2 separate regions of the Homo sapiens genome follow, and region 1 is linked to region 2. Evidence: fine-mapped QTL for protein levels in blood plasma. A gene starts in region 2. The other region holds a variant in brackets. All regions are shown on one strand. Distances are from middle to middle.

Region 1 (2,902 bases), 11 kb before region 2:
CAGTTCCCGGCGACCACAGGAGAGGAGGGTCTGAAGACACCCGGCCTAGTTCCCCTGTGCGGCTGACACCTCGGTGGCCTGCAGCAAACCTCACATCCCAGGAACACGTATCAGTGCTGCCTGGGGATGCAAAGCTGGGTGCTGACAGGGATGCAGCCTCATTTCCCTGCTGGGAAGACCCACGGTTGAATCCTGGCTGTGTCATCTTGTGAAAATTATTTAATTTATTTAATTACTTATGAGTTTTAGTTTTCTTAGCTGTAAAATAAGAAGGTCTATCTCAATTAGCTGCTGTAAGGTTTAAAATCATGTACATGAAAAGACATTGGTAAACTGGAAACTATATAAGTAGTAATCATTATTTCCCCGCTCATGAAAATGGGGGAAATGATCATAGTGACTAACATTTTGTGGCACTTTATAGTTTGTAAAACATTTTTAATTAACTAACACAGGAGAATTTCATGGAAATAATTGAAATTGTGGCTGGAGATTAAATGAAAGTAGTAAGACTTTAACAAAAAGCATTGGCATTATTTTCACCACTTAAATGTTGATTCCTTAGCCCAGCAAACATTCATTGAGCATCTTCTTCGTGCCAAATGGTGTTTCAAGTCCACTTAGTATTTGATTATTACCAGGAAGTGAACGGATAAATGGACGTTTTATTGAGGACTCACTTTGTGCTGGGCACCTCTCAAGCCACGTTCCGTGCATTGCCACATTTAATTCTCATAATGACCCTACGAAATAGATATTGTTTCCTTCCCACTTTACAGACCAGGCCCTGCCACAGCGAAAGGGTAACCAGCTTTCTCAAGATCACACAGCTGGCAGGTGGCAGAGCCGAAATTCAGACGCAGACCTGGCCCTCCTCACCACCATCTTGCGCACCCTCCTCTCCCATGTCATGTGATCATGTCATAGGTCATTACAGCACTTTCCCATATTAAAGAAAATGGGAAGGGAAGAAAGTAAAGCCTAACCCATTTGACTTCTTCTTAAAGTTTGGATAATAAAACTTGGGAGAGGAAGTTGGCACTGTCACCAAAAGGAAGATTTGGTTTTACTGAGGATTCATTCTATTCCCCTCTCATGTAAGGGGAGATGTTTAAGAGATGGCTGTATTCTTCAGAAGAGCTGTTTTTCTCCCTCCTTCTACCACACTGGGGAAGCCCACAGGCAAACTTGGCGGGATACAAAGCCCAGGTGTCTTTACTGCCCTTATGTAACCTAAGAAAGGGAGATCCAGTTCAGTGAGTCCTAGGAGAAAGTGGGGAGCTGGCTGGGGGAGGGGATGCAGAGCAGGGAGGGGAGGGTGGGGGTGGAGGGAGCAGCACCAGCCTCTCTCCCATTGGCAGGAAGGGTGATGGCTCATGTGAGGGGAGGCTTGTGACTTTTCTAGCCGAGCTGGCACAGAGGCAGGGTCGCCCCCTTCTTTCCCCTGGCCTGCTCTCTGAGTCAGCACCCAGCCACCAGGAGGAAAGTGTGGGGCCAGAGGTGATCGTCCCAATCCCTCGGGCCCCAGCAGGGCCGGCTGCGCTCACCTCGGTAGGAGAACCACTCCATCCAGTGTTTGAACTCACGCAGGTTACAGTCACACTCCCAGGGGTTATCCCCGACCTGCAGCAGCTGCAGGTTTGCTAGGGGTTCAAATGTCAGCCGGTCCAGATTCTGCAGACGGTTGGAGCGAAGCGAGAGGGAGCGCAGAGCCAGGAGCCCGT[C/T]GAAAAGACCAGGGGGCAACTGGGCCAGGCCGTTGATGGACAGGTCCAGGTGGCGGAGCAGCGGCGAGTGCCGCAGCAGGTCCCTGTCCAGGGTCCTGATGCTGTTATTGCGCAGCTGAAGCTCAGTCAGATTCGTCAGGTCCCCGAAAATGGAGCGGGGCAGCCGGTCCAGGAAGTTGTTGGACAGGTCCAACCGCTGCAGGCTGGAGAGGTTGGCGAAAGCCCAGCTTGGCAGGGCACTCAGCTTATTGTTCAAGAGCAAGAGGGTTCGGGTGGCTGCGGGCACGTCTGGGGGCACCGTGGTGAGGCCAAGGCCACTGCAGTCCACCTCCAGGCTGCGGCTGTCACACTTGCAGGAGAAAGGGCAGGTGGGGAGGGCCTCCACAGCATACAGGGCGATCCAGCAGGTGATCCCTTGGTGGGAGGGACAGACGGGGGAAAGAAAGCAATAGGACGGGTCACCACCTCCTGCTTCTCTTCCCTCCTTTCTAGCTCATAACAGGCTCTTGGCTTTATCTCCTTTGGCACAAGCCACAATCAATGCATAAACGTTTATTAACCACATAAAAGCATAATTAACAAATCCAAAGCCACTTCCATATTAATGGACATCACACAGTGTCTGCAGGGCGCCCTGCCTTGCCACACATCTGGCAGAGGAATCACTTGAGTGGAGAATGACCCTGCAGACTCAGCCAGAGCCCAGAGACAAGCCATGCTGGTGCAGTGATAGGAAGCTCACAGGGCCTCCCACAGTCATCTCCCGGGGAGTTTGGGTCCCACTGACACCATGGATGTTGACACAAGAAAGGAGATAAGGTTGTCAGAGAAACCTGCTCCCATGCCCTCTCCCAGTGTCACTGCTGGGACAGAGTTTGTTTCCCAGGGAAAATGGCCAGGCTGCTGGCTCCCTCCCCTCTGTGGCCCACCCCAACTCTGGAGCTGTGTATGGAAAGGCGAGAGCACAAAACAGCACTCCTAGCCCTGTCCTTCACGGCGTCCCAAGTGCTGTTATGTTTCCATCAATCCCACACCCATGATGACGCCAGCAGTTTGGCATGAGGATTTAGAGCCCAGGCTGTGCACCTAGGGTCCCACTGTGGGAGTGACAGGCTAAGATGTACAAACCCACTTCAACATTGACAAGTCATGGGGCCCAGGACACATTCCACTTTAAC
Region 2 (2,902 bases):
TCTCTCCTTACCCCTCCCCGCGGGCCTGGCTTTCCTGGTCTCCCTCTTTTGGCAGTGCTGAGACTTTCTTTCTGCCGGTGGGGAGGTGGGGGTGGGAAAAGCTGGGCTCTTCTTGGCAGCTCGGAAGCTGCTGTCGGGTTTCCCTACCAGCTGGACTTCCCCCGCCTCAGCTCCACGTGCTCGGCTCCCTCCCCGCCCCCACCTGAGGCAGTTATCTAAGCTGCAGGGGTGTCATCTGAGTCACAAAGAGACACTGCCCAAGTAGCCCTGACAGCCGGGTGCCAACACCCCCCAGAAATGTGGACAGCTTGGGGGTGGGGGAGAGACAGGGCCGCCAACTGGAACCCAGCCCCAGACCTGCAGGGAGGTGCAGGAATGTGAACTTCCGACTCCTGGTCAGGCTGCTCCTCTCTCCAGCACTGTCCAAATGGGTCTGGGGGATTGAGAGCAACTGTCCCGCTCTACTCAGGGTGTCCATGCCCCCTGTGTGGGTCAAGAAGCCAGGCAGGCCTGGCCCCGCTGTGTACCCCCCACCCAAGCTCAGTGTCCAGCCCCCACTAAGGCTCCCTGACCCATTTGCAGATGGACGGCTGGGTGCACAGCTGCGGGACACCCCAGCAGGTTCTCGCGGGCCTGGTTCTCCTGTCTTGCCCTTGGGCTAGCAGGGAAGGGCTGCGATACTTCTCTCTCCTGCCCACTCCCAGCCTCACCCTCACCAGGGAGGCTTCATGCACAGCTGAGTGGGCCCATGCTCATCTGGGGGAGGGTTCCTCCACACCCTTGTCCAAGGACAGCCACCTGCAGGCAAGCTATAGGGAGGCCCAGGACCTGGGTCTGTGCCCATGCCTCTGACATCCAGGACCTCCTCCCTGCCACCCTCCACCCCAAGCCTTCCTCTGACCTGGCCCTGTCCCCAGCACCTGACTGCCATCCCAACCGCTTCCCATGACCCCCGAGTTTCTTGGGGCTGTCTGTGCAGAGCCGGGCACAACGACAGCACAAGGCTCTTGGCTGCTTCTCCCATGCTGCAGGGACCGGTTTCTATGCCACCCGGGACTGTCATCTGGCGCCAGCGCTGCCCTCCTCCCCACTTCCCAGCAGAATCCACAGCTCTTGTCCCCAGCACTGTGGGCTCAGAGTTCCCAGTGTCGTGCACCTTTGGGATGCTCAGGTGCCTGAGCCCGAGCAGCTTCTTCGGCCCCAGCAATTGCCTGCAGGTAGGAAGCAACTGCAGCTATTCCTGCAGGGCAGAGATGGCCGGTGCCCACTTCCCATGCCCCGACCACCCCCTGTCCCCACCAACCCTCCATTCCTTCCTACCAGCCACTCGGTACTCACCCGTCTTTACTCTGACTGCAAACGCCTTCAATCAGGTGGCTCTCAACCCTCCAGTAAGACCCTCCTGGGATTCCTATAGAAATCCAGACACCACCGGCAGGCAGAGCGCAGTGGGCACTGGTGCCAGAGTCTCCACTCAGCGGGAGCAGCGGCTGGCACGCAGCACACAGCACCAGGAGGTGGACTGCTTGTGGCAGACGGGGGACGGGGCTGCTGGGTCAGTCACAAACTGAGAAGGAAAGAGAGGGATGGAGGGAGAGAGAGAGAGGAGAGAGGGAAGAAAGGGGCGAGGGAGGAGAGCGCACGCGTGTGCGCGAGCAGCGAGCCAGAGTGGAGCGGGGAGTGACAGCTGGGGTGCATCTGTGATGACAGCGGCAGCAGCACACACAGGCGCACACCAGAGGCACCACGGCCGGCCGCGAGGGCAGCGCTCACCCTGGCCACGCTCACATTTCAGTGGAAAAAGGCGCCTGTGGATGAATCGCTGCCGACCACAGGGAGGAGGAAAGCGGTTTCACCACCACCTCCATCTTCCATCCTGCGCCTCCAGGCTCTCCCTCACCCCCCCGGCTGCACCTGTCTTCTGTGCCTCTCTCCTCTCTTCCCCTCCATCTGGGGAAAGAGGGACAGGCGCAGACACAGAGCAAGCGGCTGACTTCTGTTCCGATGGAGGCCCCCCTGGGAAGCTGGTCTTTCTCCTGTTTTAGAGACATGCGAGGCAGAGTCTCCCATCCTGCCTGAGAGAAGGAAAAACCGAACCCTTCTCTCGGTCATACGAAAGAAGGGTACACAGGCATGTCCATGTGCCAGATGACCCTACAGGAAAGGGCCCTGAGCCCCCACAAAGCCAGGGATCACATGGTCATGCAGAGGTCACTGAGCCTCAGGGTCTGACCACCCGACGCCAGGACTACTTAGGGAAGCAGAATGCCAGAGTTGGCAGGCTGGGAGTTTGGGCACAGGGCAGCCTGCAGCAGCAGCCTGCAGACCGTTCTCAGTGCCAGGGACGAGCTTGGCTTCTCAGGGCTCCTTGCTCTTATCTGTGATGGGTCAGGCATGCGAAGGGAAGAGACTGTCATTCAAGAACTTGGAGGCCTCTTTCTTAACCAATCAGGACAAAGCAAGTCAGAAAAATTGATATCCTAAGAGATGGGAAGTGGCTGATCTGAAGGCCAAGTGAGTCAGGGACCAAGCTAGAGGGGAGCCAGGGCCCCACCAGCCTGGAGCACGAACCCTAAATCCCCCTTCCTTTGCGTCCACTGCCTGTAGACAGATGAAGCACCGTGCTAGCGATATATCACCGTGTCCTATGTCCCTCTTCCATTTTGCCTGCTTTGCTGGAGGGGTTCACAGCCAGGACTGGGGTGGGTGTAGAAGAACCCCCTGGACTCAGGATGCCCCTAGAAGGATGCTCCTGCTCACTCCCTTCTGTCCGTTCTGCCGGGTCCCCGGGCAGCACAAGGCTTGAGCTGCAGTGTCTTTTACCTCTGGGGAGTCCCGCCTCTGACCTCTCATGCTGGTGCCTCCCACACATCCCACTGTCAAGCAAAAGAGGCTCCCACCT

Direction of the effects. Positions count from the first base shown, and alleles are read on the strand shown. Strength reflects both the effect of a copy and how common the allele is.
For the plasma level of the protein whose gene starts at base 1,588 in region 2, allele T in region 1 goes with a lower level than allele C (moderate association).

The links. PIP is the chance, under the fine-mapping model, that this variant and not a neighbour inherited with it causes the effect. The UK Biobank Pharma Proteomics Project read protein levels with antibody pairs (Olink). The fine-mapping took linkage between variants from a reference panel, not from the people measured, so its PIPs are less certain.
Region 1: its variant is fine-mapped to the plasma level of the LRTM2 protein (UK Biobank, PIP above 0.99). The variant lies in the coding sequence of LRTM2. If it changes the protein, the assay may bind it differently, which can mimic a change of level.

What each region holds. Positions count from the first base shown.
Region 1 is chr12:1,830,171-1,833,072 of GRCh38, reverse strand. The region is part of intron 26 of CACNA2D4 (calcium voltage-gated channel auxiliary subunit alpha2delta 4); the gene reads left to right. It overlaps LRTM2 (leucine rich repeat transmembrane protein 2), which reads right to left. Exons shown (of 5, transcript NM_001039029.3): 4 at 1,548-2,138. Among named protein-coding and RNA genes, the nearest start is that of LRTM2, 11 kb to the right of the region's middle. RefSeq lists an enhancer at 1,899-2,512. The variant C/T (reference allele first, on the strand shown) is at 1,725.
Region 2 is chr12:1,819,251-1,822,152 of GRCh38, reverse strand. It overlaps LRTM2 (leucine rich repeat transmembrane protein 2), which reads right to left and starts at 1,588. Exons shown (of 5, transcript NM_001039029.3): 1 at 1,339-1,588. All of the region lies in intron 26 of CACNA2D4 (calcium voltage-gated channel auxiliary subunit alpha2delta 4), which reads left to right. RefSeq lists an enhancer at 1,272-2,018.